Linked DNA regions of Homo sapiens: all the other regions are linked to region 2. The links come from fine-mapping of genetic effects on gene expression. A gene starts in region 2. Each other region holds a variant in brackets. All regions are shown on one strand. Distances are from middle to middle.

Region 1 (7,178 bases), 60 kb before region 2:
ATGTCAAAGAAGGATGAGGAGAGATGCAGGGAGGATCTTTTTTATTTAAAAAAAAATTTTTTTTTAAATTTTGAGACAGGATCTCATTCTGTCACCCAGACTGGAGTGTAGCAGAGCAATCATGAGTCACTGCAGCCTCGACCTCCCAGACTAAAGCAATCCTCTCACCTCAGCCTCCCAAGTAGCTGGGAGCACAGATGCATGCCACTATGCCTGACTAAATTTTTCATTATTTGTAGAGACACAGTTTCCCTGTGTTACCCAAGCTAGTCTTGAACTCCTGGGCTCAGGCAAATGGAGGATCTTTTATTTTTCTTTTAATATCAAGTGCCTTCTGTACTTCCTTTTATTAACAGCATAGTTGTTGCATCAAGATACATAGCAATCATAGCAGGTTTCCTTTTTTGGAGGGTGATGGTGAGACAGGGTCTTGCTCGGTCCCCCAGGCTGGAATGCAGTGGCGCAATATCAGCTCTCCACAGCCTCTAACTCCTGGACTCAAGCAATTCTTCTGCCTCAACCACCCAAGTAGCTGGTATTACAGGCATGCATCACCACACCCAGCTCATTCTTATATTTTTTGTAGATACAGGGTTTCACCACGTTGGCCAGGCTGGTCTCAAACTCCTGACCTCAAGTGATTCATCCAACTGAGTCTCCGAAAGAGCTGGGATTACAGGCTTGAGCCATGGCGCCTGGCCAGCAGGTTTCTTTTTAAAGCTTAGTATTAAATATCTTTCCCCATTTAAATTTTCCATTACTCTGCCAAGAAAAAAAATTTTTTTTTTTTTGAGACAAAGTCTAGCTCTGTCACCCAGGCTGGAGTGCAGTGGTGCGATCTCAGCTCACTGCAACCTCCACCTCCTGGGTTCAAGCAATTCTCCTGCCTCAGCCTCCTGAGTAGCTGGAATTACAGTCATGCACCACCATGTCCAGCTAATTTTTTTTTTTTTTTTTAGTAGAGATGGGGTTTCACCATATTGGCCAGGCAAGTCTCAAACTCCTGACCTCCAGTGATCCGCTCGCCTTGACCTCCCAAAGTGCTGGGATTACAGGCGTGAGCCACCGCTCCCGGCCAAAAATTAAAATTCAAGTTACTTGAAGCCTGGACACACTTCCCTGGCTAGCTGGGCTATGTAAAGGTTGGTGGTGTTATTCTTCCTGCTGTGTAAGCAGATCCAGGCCCCAGAAAGAAGGGACCAGGTTATATAATTGTTTTTGAAAAGTTTGCTACAAAAATGCATGGCCTGTTATAAGCCAGGATACAAAGTAAGGATGAGGGTAAGGGAGCGACATTTTTTTCCAGAAGAAAGATATTTTCTGAAGAGTCTCAGTTCATAATTTTCCCAAAATCGTTGGAAGAGAGGGTAAAATCTCAATATGAATTTCAAAGTACTGTCTCTGTGAGGGGCCGAAAGTTGCCTTGCTGAGGATCTTTTATTAAGTCTTAAAATTAGAGTAGTAGCATTTCCCAGCTGGCATTCTTTGAAATGTTTTTCTAGATGGCAGTTAATAATATTTCATCACCAGAAGTATACCTAGGCCAGCGAGGGAATAACACTACACACTCCCTTCTCTCTTAGAATTCCTGGGTTATTTCCAGGACATATTAGCATATTGAAGGTATCTGAGAAATATTATTTCTAAAATTTGAACATAGAATAATTTTTGAGTAACGCTAATTAATAGCCTACTTAACAGCCCTTTAAGGAACACAAATTTGGGGAAGCATTGGTGTAGAGAGCCTTAAAGTTTTACAAAAGAAAATATTTAAAGGATAGATGTTCAGCTGCTTAAAATGAAGGAACTTGTTTCACATGGCTTCATCATAAGGTGTTCATCCGTGTCAGAAGACACGTGTTCTTAACAAGTCCTTTTTTTTTTTTTTTTGGGAAATTTTTTTTTTTTATATTATGAGCTATTAAAAAAACTAGGTTCTCCTTAGGGAAAAAAATACATGCAAATGCTCACAAACTTTTAAATTCACACTTTAGCGGGGTGGTGATTTCTGAAGGCCCTTTCTGTAACCCTGGTGTCTTTCAGGAAACCCAGGTGGAGATCCCATGTTTAAATTACTTTCCGTTTCAAGAGCACTTCTTAGATTCTTTAAAAAAGGACATCTTAAATTTTACATTACTGTTACAAAAATTAGCCAGGCATGGTGGTACATGCCTATAGTCCCAGCTACTCGGGAGGCTGAGGTGGGAAGATGGCTTGAGCCTGGGAGGCAGAGGTTGCAGTAAGCTAAGATCACACTACTGCACTGCAGCCTGGCCGACAGAACCAGACCTTATCTCAAAAATAAATAAAAAACAAACTTTACCTTGTTAATGCTATCTACTGAGAAGACACAATGATTTAGGAATTTTTAAATTTAAGCTTGTAAGTTTTATTTTCTAAAAAATAAATTTTTTTCAGCTTTTTCTAAGAGTGTCAACCGGCTTATTTTGTCAATATGTCTATTTATTTTTAAACAGAGGATTTTTCTCCAACAATTATAGAAGATCAGGCTCGTGAACATATTCGGCAAAACCTAGAAAGTTTCATAAGACAGGACTTTCCAGGTAAATGATTTATTTTTTATTTTTAAGAAAAGTAGTGTAACCTTTTTTCCAAATCAGTTCATGTGTTACAAGCACACTGATTTTGAGAATCAGGATTTCCATTGTTTTGCAATATACCCAGGATGGTCCTTGGTCTGCCAAATCCTCATTTACCAACAGAAACAGTGTAGGGTTTATTCTAGCAAGTGCCATAAGTGAATTTCATTTAATACTATGTTTAGAGTCAAAGTTAAGCTTACATTATTAAATGTGTTGAGGTGATCTAACATTTTCCTTGAAATGTCTTTGCATTTAAGAATAAAGGAGCACCTGGTAATCTTTCTTGCCATATACAGCTTGTATGTAAAGGAAGCTTTGAGAGAAAAAGACTTTAGCATAAATGACCAGTTAATCAGAGAACATAAGTATGAGATTAATATAGGATAATTAAACAACTGGGTGTTTTTGATTCATGAGAGGGCCATTTTGATCAAAAATTAAATGTACTCAGGTAATTAGTTATTACTTTTCATATATCCCTAACAGGAACTAAATTGAGCCTGTTTGGCTCCTCCAAAAATGGATTTGGGTTCAAACAGAGTGACCTTGACGTCTGTATGACAATTAATGGACTTGAAACTGCTGAGGTACAGTGACCACATAAAACTTCCATTTGCTGTGGCAGTGTGATTTAACCAATCTAGACTGGCATTACAGCTTGGTATTTTCCAAATTTATCAGGGCATACCATATAGAGTGTGCTGTTTGGCACAGTCTCTGGCCAAATACATTAAGAGGCTTGGAAAGGTTGTGAGGAATGTGAGGAGCAGAAAGGTTATACTTTCAC[T/C]CTGTAGCAAAAAGTGGATTGGAAAGTGTTGCCTGGGAATTCTACATAGCCAAACCAGCCTCTTCAGTGTCCCATTGGCTTGGCTACTATGCTGACTTGGATCACACACTCACATAAGGTTACCTGTAAAGTTTGTTACCAGACAGGCAGTGTGGTAAATCATAAGAGTACTAACCTTAGAGTCCAGAGGCCTGGATTTGAGACAAACTTGTTTCATCAGTACCTAAACATGTGGTCTTTGGTAAATAATCGATAAAGTATAATATCTGTTCCTCCTGCCTCCGCTGATTTTTGTACACATTATCATGGATCATGTGGGTCAGGAGTTAGCAAACGATGGCCCTTGGGCAATTCAGCCCCCCACTGCCTGTTTTTGTAAATAAAGTTTTATTGGGACAGAATCACACCCATTCACATATGTAATGTCTATGGCTGCCTTCACTCTTAAGTACAGAGTTTAGTAGTTGTAAGAGACCATATGGCGTGCAAAGCAAAACAAACTTGCCAGCCCCTGGGATATCTGAAGGCATTTATAAAATATAAAACACTATATAAAGGTATAAAGTCTAGGAAGTGCTGAGTCCCTATTCTTTTAAATCCTTAACAGCAGTCCAAATGCTAAATATCCAAATGAATGATGCTGCTGTTGCTGAAGACCTTTTTGTACCTTTTCTTAGTTTCAAGTCTTTCTATTTTGAGGATGTATCTGATTTGGGAAAATAGTCAAAAGTGATCTAGCCTGAATTTGAATAAAGTATATAAGCAAGATTGGCTCAACATATGGAATGACCCTATCATACATCCTCAAGGTTTATTTATTTATTTATTTTTTTACATGGCTTATAAACTAGTTTTGAGGGCATTTCTAAAGTAACATTCCACGTATGTTCTGGGATTTTTATAACCATCAAAAAGGCGTATGTTGAGTCAGCCCAAATGTTTTTAAGAATGATTTATCAAATACTATTTATATTTGCTGTATGACTTTAGTTATATGCATTATAATTCTGGCTAGTCCTATAGGGAAATAATTTGAGCTTAATCACTCTCCACAGCAATTCATCAACTCTTAAACTATAGAAGGTCTGCTTAGAATGAATGAGCTGGGGCACAGAAGCCTCCTCTCATTTATTCTGGGACATGGGGTACATCCGAGTGATATTATGTGGAGGGGAAGAAATGAAGGTCCTCAACCATGGTTCAGAGACTTTTTTGGAAGCCCTAGGTCCATAAGCTTCCTGACTGATTTTAGCCTTTGTTGCACACCCAAAAACAATTAGGAAGTAGGGTATTTAGTGGTTTTTGTACCGTCAGGATATTTCCTGTGAATACTGACTCTAATACCCAACTAGAAAGGAAAAAAATAGATATAGACTGACTTGAAATTAATTACATTATTTCTGAAGGTAATGGAAACTATAGCCAGTTTCAGAACCTGTCTTCCAGTTTTGGTTAAGTTCTTTATGCCTTCTTTGTTGTAGGGATTGGACTGTGTCAGAACTATTGAAGAATTAGCAAGAGTCCTCAGAAAACATTCAGGTACCTCTGTAAACTTTTTCTAAAAATATTTCTGACTTTTTAATTAGTGTTTTCTATAGTCTTCCCTTGGTATCCATGGGGTATTTGTTCCAGGCCCACCCATCACCCCTCAACCCTCCCTTCCCCAGCAGATAAAAAAAATCCTTAGATGCTCAAGTTCCTTATATAAAATGGCATAGTATTTACATATAACCTATATGCATCCTTCCATATAGTTTTAGTCATCTCTAGGTTACTTATAATACCTAATACAGTGTAAATACTATGTAAATAGTTGTTATACTGTATTTTTTATTTGTATTTTTTTATTGTTGTATCGTTAGTTTTTTATTAGTTGCTTTTTTCTCTTAAATATTTTTGGTTTGTGTTTGATTGGATATGGGGATGCAGGACCCACAGACATGAAAGGCCAATTGTATTTAGAGTTTATTAATGCCATGAAGCAGTATAGTGGCTCATTCATAGAATAATTGCAATATTAATGTCTTTTTAAAATCTTGTATGCGTAAGTATGAAAGACTGAGGAATTGGTGATAATTTATATGCATATTGTTGCCTAGCTCAGTTTTATTTCAAGACAAAGCCTACGCCAGACAGGCAAGAAAGGCTATAAATCCTTTTCCTTTGTTGGCGTTGTATAAGTCAAAGTGTAGGAGTTGCTAATTGTGTGAAGTGTCAAGGAAAGCACCCCGGACTGGGCTTGTGGGTTGAATTTGCAGCTGTTCTGCTCAACAAGCTGTATATGACCCTGAACAAGTCCTTCACTTGAAGCGATCTCTTTTTTTAAGAAATGGGATCTTGCTAGGTTGTCCAGGCTAGTCTCTGAACTCCTGGGCTCAAGTGCCTTGGCCTCCCAAAGCACTGGGATTACAGGTGTGAGCCACTACGCTTGGCCTGATCTCTTTTTTTCATTGATAAATTGAGGCAACTGGACTGGATAATTATTCTAGAGTATTTACAGCTATAAAATGTATAGATTTTGTAAACCATGCACAGAATTGAAATGCTGTTAACGTATCCTTTTGTTGTCATGGCAGCTATGGATACCATTAACAGTGAAAAATCTTCTTTTAAAATGTAGTTCAGCAAACTTCTGTGCTAAGAGCTGAAAATGAAAGTGAACAATATATGGCCCCTATCCTCAGGAACTTAAAATCCATGGTCTGTCCATGAAAAGTTTTTGTACATTTCGGTTAGGAACAGACTTTAAGTCACAGCATGAACGTGCACACACACCTAGACACACACATATATACACCTTGGGTGCCACTTTTCTTTGAAATTTTTTCCCCAGGAGTTAATAAAGTACATACCATGTTGTTTAAATAACAGGAGGAAAAAAAATCTTAATTTTGGTTTATTCCCAATAAAAATTAACCTAAAGTATACAGAAATTGGGTTAGGCTTTGTTTTTTTAAATGTACATTGATTTGTTCACAGAGGGCAGAACAATATAAAAAAAAAAGAAAAAAAGTGCATTGATATACTTTTCTTTGGTCATTGAAGTAAACATTTCCCTTAACTTGGGAATTCCACCTCTAAAGATCATGTGTTTTGTTTTGTTTTGTTTTGTTTTGAAGGTCGTGCAAAGAAACTGAAGTACTAAGTTAGCGTGACTATTAATTTTTTAGTACTGAGCTAGATTTTAACTTTGTGTTTTGAAATAATTTAATTTCACATTTAAAGGAAAGCAGCAAAAGTTGCATAAAGAGTTCCACATATAACTTTTATTCAGATCCACCAATTAACATTTTCCATATTTGATTCATCATTCCATCTTTTGCTTGCTCTCAATTTCTTCCTGTACCATTTGAGATTAAGCTATAGACATTATGTCCTTTCCCCTAAATACCTCAGTATATATTTCCTAAGAAGGAACGATGTTAAAAACAGATCATTTTTAGATTAGAAATGACTTAGGCACACAGATGATTTATAATAATAATGGAATGCAGATTGCCTGGAACAAGAATTTCGTAACAGCTAGAGGGCTGTGTTTAAAACTTCATATCTTTAAAACAGTCTCCCCAGGTATTTTATTGGGTGCCTCCTATGTGCACAGCACTGTGTTGGGCACTTAGGGATGGTGGAAAAGTAAAAAAATCTGTATGTTTTTTTTGTGAAAGCTTCCATATCTTAAGAGGTAAGGTAATCTTCCAAACTATGTAACAATGTAAGGTAATATTCAATTAAATAACTTCTAAGAAGAGAGAATGTGGGAAAGAGTTGCACAGGGGAGGTTGATGGAA
Region 2 (6,889 bases):
TCATTTGAGCCTTAGAGCAGACGTGGCATGGGCCAGACACAGCATCGACCCAGAATAAACCCAAATACAGCTCACCTGAGCTCAGTGCAGGCTGGGAGGCTGGCCTGGAAAGGTGTAGGTTTGGGGTGAGATATGCCTGGATTTGAATCATGGTTCCTGTCATTTTGTAGCCATGTAACCTTCTGTAAAACAGTCTCAGAATTTGGGGGGATGTGATGAGCTAACTACACATAAATGGCATCCTGCTAAGGGTAGACGTTTCATACGTTGTAATTCTTGTCCCTTTTAGCCATTTTCTTGTGCAAAAAGGGATAATATGTTAATGGATTATCAATCAAAGCAAGAGCTTAGGGAAAGAGTTTCAACACATTTAGGGAGTTATTGTCCCATATTCAAATCTGGGGGAAATTTGCTGTATTTCCTTCAAATAAAAGACCACAGTAACTTCTTTGAAAAGAACCATAAATTTCAAATATAAACATTCGGAGAAATTTCATTCTCTTAGTAGCTGATTAACTATAGACAAACCTGCCTTAATTGAGGAGCTGTTTTGAAAGCTCATTCCCCAGTAGGAACTCAATCTCCTGGTCCCAGGTGGGTCTCATCAGACAAGAGATGGAGGAGAGAGGGAGGTGCACCCTAGCCTCAGCCTCTATTGAAATACAGAGCCATGTGGTGGTTACATCACTGTGGACTCCCATCCTCCCTTGCTGCTGTGCAGTGTTCAGGGAAGGCTTCATTTCACACCAACCTTTAGCGGGGCAAGGGCTCTGTACCAGCGGTACTCAGCTTAAAACTAGCCTACTTTGAGGGCCTTGATGGGTTACTGCTTTTACTTCCACTAGCTAGTGATTCCGAAACTTTTCATGATGAAGTGCCCATTTATTGGGCCAGGTGTGTTGGCTCAAGCCTGTAATCCCAGCACTTTGGGAGGCAAAAGTGGGCAGATCACCTGATCCCAGGAGTTCAAGACCAGCCTGGGCAACGTGGTAAAACGCCGTCTCTACAAAAAATACAAAAATTAGCTGGTCATGGTGGTACATGCCTGTAGTCCCCGTTGCTCAGGAGACCAAGGTGAGAGGATCACTTTAGCCCAGGAGGTAGAGGTTGCAGTGAGCCAAGATCGTACTACTGCACTCCAGCCTGGATGACAGAGCAAGACCCTGTCTCAAAAAAAAAAAGAATAAAAAATAAAGTACTCATTTTTTGTTCTCCATGGATTCTATGTCTTGAAGCAGTCCTCAAACTTTAAGGTGCAAATAAGTCACCTGGGGGTCTTGTTAAAAAGCAGATTCTTGGCCGGGCGCAGTAGGTAGCTCACGCCTGTAATCCAGCACTTTGGGAGGCTGAGGCGAGTGGATCACTTGAGGTCAGGAGTTCGAGACCAGCCTGGCCAACATGGTGAAACCCCATCTCTACTAAAAATACACAAAAATTAGCCAGACATAGTGGTGGGCGCCTCTAGTCCCAGCTACTCAGGAGGCTGAGGCAGGAGAATCACTTGAACCTGGGAGGTGGGGAGGTTGCAGTGACATGAGATGGCACCACTGCATTCCAGCCTGGGTGACAGAGCAAAACTGTCTCAAAAAAAAAAAAAAAGCAGATTCTGTAACAAAGGTCCAGGGCAGAGCCTGAGATTCTGCATTAGTAGCAAAGGCCCAAGTGAAGCCAGTGCTGTTGCTCTGCAGAACACCTTTGAATGGCAGGCTTTTGAAATATTTTCTCATTGGAAGAATCTTCTGTATTTATTAAATTCTGCTTAAAATTATTAACTTTCTTGTATATCCATGTTCATAACAGCATTATTCACAATAGCCAAAAGGTAGGAACAACCCAGGTGTCCATTGACAGGGGACAGGGGGTGAGAAATTTATTTCATGGACACAGATTCAGGTGGAAAAGATGAAAAAGCTCTGGAGATGGAAGGCAGTGCAGGTGGCACAACAATGTGAATGTACTGAATGCCACAGAACTGTGTACCTAAAACGGCTTAACACGGTAAGCTTCATGTTATGGATATGTTGCCACGGTGTTCACAAGTTATTAACTCAATCAGACTATTTAAATGCCCAGTAGATTGCATTCTGGGGAAATGGCTGTTTCAGGAAAATTTTCAGTGATTGCCACAGGGACCTCCCATGGGTGGGGAATGGAGTCTGGAGCACGGCTGCATGGCTCATGGAGAGAATTTGCACAGCCAGGTAGCCCCTGGTCCACTTCTACCCATATCTGGCCAGGTGCAAAGAGCATAGCTGTACCTTCTATTATCTCTCTCAATTTCTTATTTGCACTTTGCCCATGTCTATAGAAGGAAAAACTTGACTGATTAAAAATTACATTCACGGCACCTGTAGTCCCAGCTACTCAAGAGGCTGAGGCAGGAGAATGGCGTGAACCCGGGAGGCGGAGCTTGCAGTGAGCTGAGATCGTGCCACTGCACTCCAGCCTGGGCGACAGAGTGAGACTCCATCTCAAAAAAAAAAAAAAATTATACTCACGCCAGCCTGGGCAACATGGCGAAACCCCATCTCTAGAGAAAAATACATAAATTAGCCAGGCGTGGTGGCGTGCGCCCGGGGTCCCAGCCACAAGCTGAGGCAGAAAAAAAAGTAGCTACTCAGCTACTCAATGTTCACTCTTTAAAAATGCTTTTCCATCATCCTCCACCGTCTCCCACCCCCCACCAAGCAGCAAGATAATTCCCCATCGCTTAGCATCATATAGCTGCTTATGTGACCTTGAGAATGTCCACATGTCACAATGGACAGTCACTTAACACTAAGCAATGACACATGCTAGGAGTGGGGCTGGGCCTTGGGGCTGCTGGATGAATGAGACCCAGCCTCTGCCCTGGGAGTGCAGAGACTCAAGACAGATATGACCACGTGAAGAGACAACTGTAAAACAAGTGGTAAGTGCATCTACAGCCATAGCCACGGGGCACTGTGAGACCACAGAGCAGTGAAAACTAAGCCAGTCTAGGCTTGGCAAGGAGAGATGGAGTGAGGTGGGCAGTGGCTAAGGTGGGAAGACCAGAGCTGGGAGGTGAGATGGGATTTGGGTTTATCTTTACCAATAAGGATGAGGAGCCTGTTTCATCTTCCTCCAGGCAGGTCACAGAAGCTGGAACCAGTTGATCGGGCCGAGCCTGCAGACTCCCTCATCCTTTCCGGCCTTCAACACTGATAGCTCTGCTCTCTCTCCCCAACCTCAGTGCCTTCATCCTCCCCTGTGTTCCCATGGATGCTTGGTCCTGACTTTGCACCTCTCCCTCACACCCAGTGTCCTTTGTTTTTCCTCTGCCACTTGGGAGGCTGATGGGAGGATCACCTGAGCCTGGGAGGTTGAGGCTGCAGTGACCTGTGTTCACGCCACTGCACTCCAGCTGGGGTGACAGAATGAGAGCCTATCTCAAAGAAAAAAAAAAAACACTGCTCTGTATGATACTATCAAAGTGGATATATGTAATTGCACATTGTGAAATCTCATAGAATGCACAACACCAAGAATGGACCGTAATGTAAACTGTGAAGTATGGGCTTTAGTTAGTAACCATGCATTGATACCGGCTCATCAAGTATAACAAACGTACCACACAAACATAAGTAGTAAAAAAAAAAGGGGAAAGCTGTGTGTATGGTGCAGAGAAGGGGGGTTGTGGGAACATTGTACTTTCTAACCAATTCTAAAATTGCTCTAAAATTTAAGTATATTAATATTTTTAAAAAAAGTTTCGTTAAATTAGCAATATAATAGTTGCTTACCCAAGAAAATTCAGGTTTTCAAATATTGCGTTTTAAAAGCAATTATTTCCGGATGTGAGGGTGATCTGGCTGCAACATCTGTCACCCCACTGATGGCCAGGGTTAATTTGTCTGATCTGGCTGGCTAGGTGGATGTCTCCTTCCTCCCTCATCCGTCCACATGCGTCCTTCCAGACGCTGCGGACAACCTTCCCCAACAGAGGAGGGCCGTTCTTTGGGCAAGGGTATATGAGTAGCTGCACTCCCCTGCTAGAACCTCCAAACAAGCTCTCTAAAAGTAATTACTTCAAAGGAAGGATTAAGAGTTTCATCCTCTATGACAAAATTAATTTTTCCTTTTTTTTTTTTTTTTTTTGAGACAAAGTCTCACTCTGTCGCCCAGGCTGGAGTGCAATGGCACGATCTCGGCTCACTGCAACCTCCGCCTCCTGGGTTCAAGTGATTCTCCTGCCTCAGCCTCCCGAGTAGCTGGGACTACCGGCGCCCACCACCATGCCCAGCTAATTTTTGTATTGTTAGTAGAGACAGGGTTTCACCGTGTTAGCCAGGATGGTCTTGATCTCCTGACCCCGTGATCTGCTCCCCTTGGTCTCCCAAAGTGCTGGGATTATGGGCGTGAGCCACCGCACCCGTCCTACAAAAATTTTAGTAATAAAGGTTGTCCTTAATAGTTGAATGTGCACAGCTATAAAACCCACACAAGAAAGCAATCTGGCCTCCGCATCTAATATCTGCTCAAGATTGATGAGCTCTCTCCCCCTCCACGTTAGCCCCAGATGGGTTGTTTGAGCTGCCCACACCGCTCATTCCCTGAAGCCATCGTGACAGGACACTGTCACCTTTGTCATCCATTGTGTTGGTATATAAATCCACTCAACTGATCTGTTCCTGGCCAAGACCACAGACTTTTCCCCTCTCTGAGGAGCTAAGTCTGATTGTCATATTTTCAGTTCTGGTTGTTATATCAGCAGTAGTAAATTGCATTCCCTGTCAATCAATCGTGTTGTCAATTCACCCTCTGACAACTAAAGCAGAAGGCCTAAAATTACTGAGTGCCTACTCTGTGCCAGCTGCCATGTCAGACAAGCGGCTCCCCTGGGAAGACAGCCAGACTCAAGGGTAAGGGATCAAGGAAATCAGCCAGGAAAGTCCATTAGGCATTTTGGGGAAAGACCAGGCAGGAGCTAATGAAGTCTAGATGAAAAGTGACAGCTGAGAGAACTGAAAAAGGGGCAGATGTCTTGTTTGGCTTGATGGAGCCTCCAACTGATTACAAGTGAAAGCCAGGAGGGAGGAGCTTAAAAGGCCTGCTGTTCTGCAGGGGAATCTTCAGGTTCCTATGGGCTCCCATCTCCTCCCCAAGGAGTCTTCTCACTTAGACTAGCATTCCCAAAGCATGGAACCCAGTAATCGCTGCAGTGAGCCACAGGTGCTTTGGGGTTTCAGAAGAAAAGGCAATCTGTTGGCCTAAAGGAAGAAGCCAAGGCAAAATTAATATAAGTAGAGAGCTTATTTGAGCCAAGTTTGAGGACTGCAACCCTGGGGACATTGATTCAAGTTGCCCAGAATATATGCTCCAATCGGCAATTATAAGTGGGTTTTTAAAGGGAAAAAAGAAGAGGTAGTTCTAAAGTTGTTTACCAAGTATTTACATTGGTTCATTAAAATACCGTAAGCTTCTTTTTTTCTTCTTCTTCTTGTTGAGACAAGGTTTCCCCCTGTGTTGCCCAGGCTGGTCTTGAACTCCTGTACTCAAGTGATCTCTCACCTCAGCCTCCCGTGTAGCTGGGATTACAGGTGCATGCCACAGTGACTCACTCAAAATAGTATAAGCTATTGACTGGCTATGCGCTGTTCTTTGTATCACAAATTCCAGAAAAATGAAGATATGGGTGAGGGTCACATTGTGCAACTCATAGCATTTTAGGTAATTTATCAGCTGGTCTGGAAACTATAGGCAATAGAAGAAAAATACAAAATGCCTTTAAACAATTAACCCTGGGCATAGGGTTAATGAGACTCTCCTGTCTCTCTGATAAATTTTGCATTCCTCAGATTCTTCCGACTGCTCTGAGCTACTTTCCTTTCCCAAATGAAACAGTTGTAGTCACACTTCATAAATTGAAAATAACATAGTAATGATTTCCCAGAAATCTCATTTTGTTCCTAATAGCTCCTGCGTATTTAAATGTTGAGCATTTTCCACGAAGATGACATTAATCAAATGTTCTTAAATAACATTCAATTAGCAGGATACAGTTCATTCTGGTTAATATATTTTTCACAACATTTGCTTATTTCTGTTTAGTAAGTCTGCAATCTTTATCATTGCTATTGGGTTATATTAGATTGAATCAGTGGCTCGAAGGTATTCATTGAAACCTAAAATAATGATGGAGACAGTAGTGGATATTCCACACATCAGAATCATCTGTGAACGCACATAGTGCTCACGATTCCAGAATGATGTAGGATGGCAACCAGGACTCACTGAGTCAAGCAAATCTGCAGGTATGATGATCTTACATAAGCAGCTGAAGAGTGAAAGTAAGAAGTGAGAAGACAGTAGTGGATATTTCACGCATCAGAATCATCTGTGAATGCACATTGTGCTCATGATTCCAGAATGCTGTAGAATCACAACCAGGACTCACTGCGTCAAGCAAAGCTGCAGGTGTGATGATCTTACAGAGGCAGCTGATAAGTGAAAGTGGGTAAGAAGTGCCACAATGAACATCTGAAAAACGTGTTAGATTAAATCAAAGTTCTCCTTCCCCAAGTCCCCTGAGCAAAATATAAGACCTGGCCAGATGAGCTTATTATGGCTCAGAAAACAACACCCCTGTAGGAGCCAAGGGAAAAATGTCCTTTTTGCCCTCTGAAGGTTTGCTGAAAAAAATAACTCGCAAAAGGCAGATTCACTGGAGAAAAGGCATACGAATTTATTTATGTGCACATAGGAAAGAACCACAGAATGATTGCTCCAAACGCCCAGTGGGTTACAGAAGCTTACATACCATCTTGAGGTTACGAAGAGAATGGGAGCTCAGAGAATGGCCCAAAACAAGTTATGGTGGTAAATCAGGTTATGGTGCATGACAGGTTATGGCAGGGAGAGAAGAGGA
Region 3 (7,178 bases), 51 kb before region 2:
AAGAAAGATAATACGTAAAGTGCAAAGCCTAGCATATTCTAAGTATTCAGTAAAGTGAGCTTCCTTGCCCCCTTTCCCCATCAGATTAAGTTTCATTTCCTCTGTCTGCCACACAGATTTTTTCCTGAAATGTCTTCTACCTACTTATTTTCTCCTGTGTTCTATGATGTGATCACTATGTATCTGCTTTTTAGGAACCACCACTTAGCTCTCTCAGAAGAAACTCAAACTCTGACATCTCAGAATGAGCTTATCTTTCACTTTACCGCTTCCCTTCTGCAGGAACCAACTCCATTAATCTGCCCTTCCTTGTGAATCCTTTTTCATGGTTGTTGATATTGGCATCCTTGGAATCAATAAAACGGGTGAAATGATAATTAGCCTGACCCACACTAGGTTCAGTATAAGTTGGGAGTCAATCTTACCTAGATTTGAATTCCGGCTCCACAATTTACCAGCTGCATATTCCTAAGCTAGTGAATCTTTCTGGGTCTCTGTTTCCTCATCTGTAAGATGAGGGTGATAAACCTAAGGAGGTAATGTTTGTAAAGGACTCTTCACATATCCCTATCACACATTAGGTGCTCAGGAAGTGGTAACTCTTACTCTGAAAGCCCTGATCCTCTCTTACTACCCCTAGCTTCCCATCCAGTTACAGATGCTCTCAAACATGCCTTGCTTCTTCTGTGTATTCCCATGCCACCATGAAAGTTCACACCCAGTTGTTTTTCATAAGTGGTCACCCTGCCTCTGTTCCTGGTGCCTCCAGTCTGTCCACTGCCAGGGTTATTGTCTAACTAGATGTGGTCAGTGATTCCTCCCAACTTAGACCAGTTCATTGGCTCCTCTTTGATTCTAAGGATAATTCTTTTTATTTATTTATTTATTTATTTATTTATTTATTTATTTATTATTGATCATTCTTGGGTGTTTCTCGCAGAGGGGGATTTGGCAGGGTCACAGGACAATAGTGGAGCAGCATAATAAACTTGTTTATCTGGTCAGCAGATAAACAAGTGAACAAAGGTCTCTGGTTTTCCTAGGCAGAGGACCCTGCGGCCTTCTGCAGTGTTTGTGTCCCTGGGTACTTGAGATTAGGGAGTGGTGATGACTCTTAACGAGCATGCTGCCTTCAAGCATCTGTTTAACAAAGCACATCTTGCACCGCCCTTAATCCATTCAACCCTGAGTGGATACAGCAGGTTTCAGAGAGCACAGGGTTGGGGGTAAGGTCACAGATCAACAGGATCCCAAGGCAGAAGAATTTTTCTTAGTACAGAACAAAATGAAAAGTCTCCCATGTCTACCTCTTTCTACACAGACACGGCAACCATCCGATTTCTCAATCTTTTCCCCACCTTTCCCCGCTTTCTATTCCACAAAACCGCCATTGTCATCATGGCCTGTTCTCAATGAGCTGTTGGGTACACCTCCCAGATGGGATGGTGGCCGGGCAGAGGGGCTCCTCACTTCCCAGTAGGGGCGGCCGGGCAGAGGCGCCCCTCACCTCCCAGACGGGGCAGCTGGCCGGGCGGGGGACTGACCCCCCCACCTCCCTCCCGGATGGGGTGGCTGCCGGGTGGAGACGCTCCTCACTTCCCAGACGGGGTGGCTGCCGGGCGGAGGGGCTCCTCACTTCTCAGACGGGGCGGCTGCTGGGCTGAGGGGCTCCTCACTTCTCAGACTGGGCGGTTGCCAGGCAGAGGGTCTCCTCACTTCTCAGATGGGGCGGCCGGGCAGAGACGCTCCTCACATCCCGGACGGGGCGGCAGAGCAGAGGCGCTCCCCACATCTCAGACGATGGGTGGCCGGGCAGAGACGCTCCTCACTTCCTAGATGGGATGGCGGCCGGGAAGAGGCGCTCCTCACTTCCTAGATGGGATGGTGGCCGGGCAGAGACGCTCCTCACTTTCCAGACTGGGCAGCCAGGCAGAGGGGCTCCTCACATCCCAGACGATGGGCGGCCAGGCACAGATGCTCCTCACTTCCCAGACGGGGTGGCGGCCGGGCAGAGGCTGCAATCTCAGCACTTTGGGAGGCCAAGGCAGGCGGCTGGGAGGTGGAGGTTGTAGCGGGCCGAGATCACGCCACTGCACTCCAGCCTGGGCACCATTGAGCACTGAGTGAACGAGACTCCGTCTGCAATCCCGGCACCTCCGGAGGCCAAGGCTGGCGGATCACTCGTGGTTAGGAGCTGGAGACCAGCCCGGCCAACACAGCGAAACCCCGTCTCCACCAAAAAAATACGAAAACCAGTCAGGCGTGGCGGCGCGCACCTGCAATCGCAGGCACTCGGCAGGCTGAGGCAGGAGAATCAGGCAGGGAGGTTGCAGTGAGCCGAGATGGCAGCGGTACAGTCCAGCTTCGGCTCGGCATCAGAGGGAGACCGGCATCAGAGGGAGACCGTGGAAAGAGAGGGAGAGGGAGACCGTGGGGAGAGGGGAGAGGGAAGAGGGGAGAGGGAGAGGGAGAGGACTAAGGATAATTCTTAGCAAAATGTGTATGTTCTGTAGTTGGACCTTTCCCAGTTTCTCCACCATCTCCTATGCCTCATATTCCATTCCCTCAAGTTCATTCGGCAACCTATGCAATTCTCTGGAACTTCCCTGAACGTACCATTCTATTTCAGGCATCTACACTTTTTGTGTACAGTTTGCCTTGCCTGGTAAATTTGCTCAACTGCCACTATTTTTGCTGGTTTTTCTCCCTCTTTTTCAAAGCTTAGCTCAGGCAATTTCCTCTCTCCTATTGAAGTTAATTCCTATTAACTTCATAACTTCTAGCTTTAAGGTGAGTAACTTGTTTGGAGGATAATCGTCCCTTAGGCTGTTCTCCAAATTAGATATAGTCACATGGAGAGAACAGGTGGGAACCACATAGTTCAGACTCTATAGTAGTTTCCTCTGTTTGGTATTTGTCTTAGTGACAACGACATACACATGCATATACACACATGCACACGTGTGCACATACGATCCAGTAAGTTCCCAGAGGGGAGTGACTGTTTGATTCTTGTAGTTCTAATATCAATATGTTTAATAAATGTAAACTTTGCCAGACTAATCTTCCCAGATGTTTGTTAATAACAGAATTCTTTGACAAGTCCTAATGAATGCAATGAAACAGGCCAAAGTTAGGTTTACACCATTTTATATTGGAACATTAACATAAGAGTTACT[T/C]ATATCCCCAGCTGCTGTATTTAATGATAACATTTTATTTCCCAACTTAGGTCTGAGAAACATCTTACCTATTACAACAGCAAAGGTGCCAATTGTGAAGTTCTTCCATTTGAGAAGTGGTCTGGAAGTAGATATCAGTTTGTATAACACATTGGTAAGATTTTTTTCAGGCTTTTTGTTTAGAGAGGTTAAGGGAACAAATGTCTCACCTTGCAAAAACCTCAAGTTAAAGAAGTCACATTCATTTCATCTTAGTGAATCTTTCAAGAGTTATTATGCTTACTTGCTGTGAACCTGGCAGTGTTCTGAGGCTGAGGATTCTAAGATAATTCAGATATGTTTCAGGGATTTATAGGACCTCTCTGACCCTTTAGGGGTGTTTGTGCAGAGAGATCTTATATCTACTGAAAGGGAACTGATTGTTTATTTCACCAGCCCTTATTTTCTAGATGTTCAGACCAAGGACGTATAAAAGCCATGAGGTCAGATGTTACTTATAATTCTTTATTATTATCTAGTAAGTTAATGAAGATTGTCTTTAGGGAAAAAAAAAAGGTTAATTTCAGTTGAAATGTCTTCTTCCTAAAATGAATCAGACTGTAAACCTATTTAAAATATTCCAGTTTAAAATCTTTTCATCTAGGCTCGCATGGTGGCTCATGCTTGTAATCCCAGCACTTTGGGAGGCTGATGGGGGAGGATCACTTGAGCCCAGGAGTTCATGACCAGCCTGGGCAACATAGTGAGATCCCATCTCCATTATTTAAAACAACAACCAAAAAAAAAAAAGAGACCCTTTACACTTCATTGTTAGTCTTATAGTGTTATTTTCCTTTTAACAGGCCCTTCATAACACAAGGCTTTTATCTGCTTATTCCGCCATTGATCCCAGAGTGAAGTATTTGTGCTATACCATGAAAGTATTTACAAAGGTGAGTATGCTTCCTATTGTGACTTATCAGGAAATTTCATTGCATCTTTAAACACTGTTGAAAACATAAATCTATTTTTTAATGAACTGTAGTCATGTGAAATGCTTCATGTAGCTATTTGGGAGACCCTATGAAGAAAGCTAAAATTTTGTTCTGAATTTTATACAATGACCTGATCTTGCACGTAGCCAGCTGTCCACTGCTTTGCTAGGTTGGATTGGTTTTGCCTTTGACAATGTGATTTTTATATTAGTTCTCAAAATATGCACTTTACTTTTAGTGATAACAGAATGGATGCAAAGTTAGCAGAAAACAGACCTTTCCTTTGTTCTTGGTTTTCCTTCTGTCTAGATGTGTGATATTGGTGATGCATCTAGAGGCAGCTTATCATCGTATGCATATACTCTTATGGTGCTATATTTTCTCCAGCAGAGGAATCCACCAGTCATTCCTGTCCTTCAAGAGGTATTAGTGAATGAAATTGTATTTCTTATCTGGAAAACTGGTGATCTCTGAGCCTTTCTCCTCCTCTAAAATTCTGTGGTTCTGTAGTTAATTTTTTACCTATTTTCCTAGAAGTTTTTGTATCAATGCATTAAGTTTGTAATCCATACTAATAGTTTAAAAATTAATTTCAGATATACAAAGGTGAAAAGAAACCTGAAATATTTGTTGATGGCTGGAATATTTATTTTTTTGATCAAATAGATGAACTGGTACGTATTTTAAGAGTAAAGATTTTCCTATATCCTTGACTAAAAATTAGCTATACTACAGTGTAGATGTTCAACAACTATTTTATTGCTTGTTGTATTTATATATCTTATGATAGTAAAAAAAATAGTGTTTTCAGATGCTTTCTTTGATGTGAAAATATTTTTACTAAGCCAAGTGAATTTCTAGGGCCTATATCCAGTATTTCTTTAATGCCTAATAATTCCAAATGGTTAAGTAACTTTATTCCAAGTGAATGAATATTTGTTCTGTGGTTTTTGTACCCAGAGTTTAGAAAGACTTTCAATGAGCTAAAGAGATCTAATAACCTACGTATTACCAAGGCTCTTAGAATCTATTTCTGGATCTTCTGACTAATATGTTCTGAGACTTGACACTGAAAACTCTGAGCTCTTCCTACTCCAAGTCACAGAGTAGAGATTAATAAACTTATGTAAATTATGTTTTTAAATATGAAAGAAAAGTTGCATAATTGAGCTCTAGTTAATTAGAAATAAATCCAAATTTACTCCCTAAAATACAAATGAATATTGATATTAACACTTCACTAAAGACCATGGTATCCCTTGTTCCCTTCTATTTCTAGCCTACCTATTGGTCAGAATGTGGAAAAAATACAGAATCTGTTGGGCAGTTATGGTTGGGCCTTCTTCGTTTCTACACAGAGGAATTTGATTTTAAAGAACATGTTATTAGCATCAGGAGAAAAAGTCTGCTTACAACTTTTAAGAAACAGTGGACCTCAAAATACATTGTTATTGAAGGTACGAATAAAATTAAACTTGAAGTCGAATAGACTATAGAGCTTGAACTATAAGGACATTGTTCTTCCTCCTTGCAGAGCTCTTCCAGCTGCTTGGGGTGTGCAGTGCCCCAGTCTCATTGTCCATACCAGGCCAACTTTTCTCTTTCCAGCCTTAAGATTTGTTTTTTAAATGACTGAAGCCATTTCACCATGACAAATTTTTTGCTATTGTTGGACACATACTGAAGGATAAGGCAGCAGTAGTGATAAGGCAGCTTCAAGAAAGTGGGACTTCTACAACCTTCCTGTTGGGGGGTTTGAAGAGTGCCGCTAAGTGAATTTTCAAGATCTTCATTCGCTATTGATGGAGTTCACCTATAAGTAATTGTATATAAATTTTGACATTTATTTTGACCATATGGAAGCCTTTTCTTTTTCTATTTTTTAGTTTTTGAGATGGAGTTTCGCTCTTGTTGCCCAGGCTGGAGTGCAGTAGCGCTATCTCGGCTCACTGCAACCTCCGCCTCCTGGGTTCAAGCAATTCTCCTGCCTCAGCCACCTGAGTAGCTGGGATTACAGGGACCCACCACCACAACTGGCTAAATTTTTGTACTTTTAGTAGAGATGGGGTTTCACCATGTTGGCCAGGCTGGTCTTGAACTCCTGACCGCAGGTGATCACCCACCTCGGCCTCCCAAAGTGCTGGGATTACAGATGTGAGCCACTGCGCCTGGCCACCTTATCTTTTTCTATTGAATGTAGTGATCTATTGGAGCCATTGATGCTAATAGTTGATTGTTTATTTCCAATTTGTGGGATTCTTATTTTAAGACAAAATGGAATTTAAATGCTTTAGCTGAGAAATGACCTAAGAAATATTTTTTTAATTTTAATAAGATTTTTAAATGTTTATCTTTTAATATGTTTGTATCACATAAATAATACGTACTATTCTAAGTTGTGGTTTTATTATTATTTCTGCCTATTGGCAGTATTAAAATACAATGAACTTTTGTAAAATGAATTTCAGATCACCATGGGTTACAGATATAGTTTTGACTTTTTAAAGATCTCATGTGTCAAACACATAGAATTTTTGACTTACTACGCCTTTTCGTTATCACTGCAGTTCTTATCATCTGTCACTTATTAAGGTATTCCTTTTTTTTTTTTCTTGAGACAGTCTCACTTTGTCTTCCAGGCTGGAATGCAATGGCGCAATCTTGGCTCACTGCAACCTCCACCTCCCGGGTTCAAGTGATTCTTGTACCTCAGCCTCCTGAGTAGCTGGGATTACAGGTGCCGTGCCACCACGCCTGGCTAATTTTTTTGTATTTTTAGTAGAGACGGGGTTTCACCATGTTGGCAAGGCTAGTTTCGAACTCCTCAGCTCAGGTGATCCGGCCCACTTCAGCCTCCCAAAGTGCTGGGATTACAGGCGTGAGCCACTGTGCCCGGCCTATTAATGTATTCTTTTTTAAGTTTTGAAGGTTTATTATCTTTTGCTTCTAATTCTTACATTACTTTCAGACAAGCAGTTAGTAATAGGCTAAACTAAAAAGAAGGCTTCATTCATAATCATATAAC

Which allele goes with the higher level. Alleles are on the strand shown, and positions count from the first base shown. SD is a standard deviation of normalised expression in the study named. Not every link is listed here.
With allele C in place of T in region 3, the expression in prefrontal cortex of the gene that starts at base 2,804 in region 2 is higher (moderate effect, 0.47 SD a copy in ROSMAP).

The links. PIP is the estimated chance that this variant, and not a neighbour inherited with it, causes the effect. A credible set is the group of variants that fine-mapping cannot tell apart.
Region 1: its variant is the best candidate, but not a certain one, in a credible set for the expression of C9orf153 in whole blood (INTERVAL, PIP 0.87).
Region 3: its variant is the best candidate, but not a certain one, in a credible set for the expression of C9orf153 in prefrontal cortex (ROSMAP, PIP 0.78).

The regions. Positions count from the first base shown.
Region 1 is chr9:86,314,970-86,322,147 of GRCh38, reverse strand. TUT7 (terminal uridylyl transferase 7) reads left to right here. Exons shown (of 27, transcript NM_024617.4): 15 at 2,478-2,564; 16 at 3,090-3,190; 17 at 4,872-4,929. Among named protein-coding and RNA genes, the nearest start is that of TUT7, 36 kb to the left of the region's middle. The variant T/C (reference allele first, on the strand shown) is at 3,391.
Region 2 is chr9:86,255,572-86,262,460 of GRCh38, reverse strand. C9orf153 (chromosome 9 open reading frame 153) reads left to right here and starts at 2,804. Exons shown (of 4, transcript NM_001276366.4): 1 at 2,804-2,911. It also overlaps the pseudogene RN7SKP264.
Region 3 is chr9:86,306,861-86,314,038 of GRCh38, reverse strand. It overlaps TUT7 (terminal uridylyl transferase 7), which reads left to right. Exons shown (of 27, transcript NM_024617.4): 18 at 3,230-3,333; 19 at 4,022-4,111; 20 at 4,463-4,576; 21 at 4,750-4,827; 22 at 5,433-5,610. Among named protein-coding and RNA genes, the nearest start is that of ISCA1, 28 kb to the right of the region's middle. RefSeq lists an enhancer at 862-1,699. The variant T/C (reference allele first, on the strand shown) is at 3,180.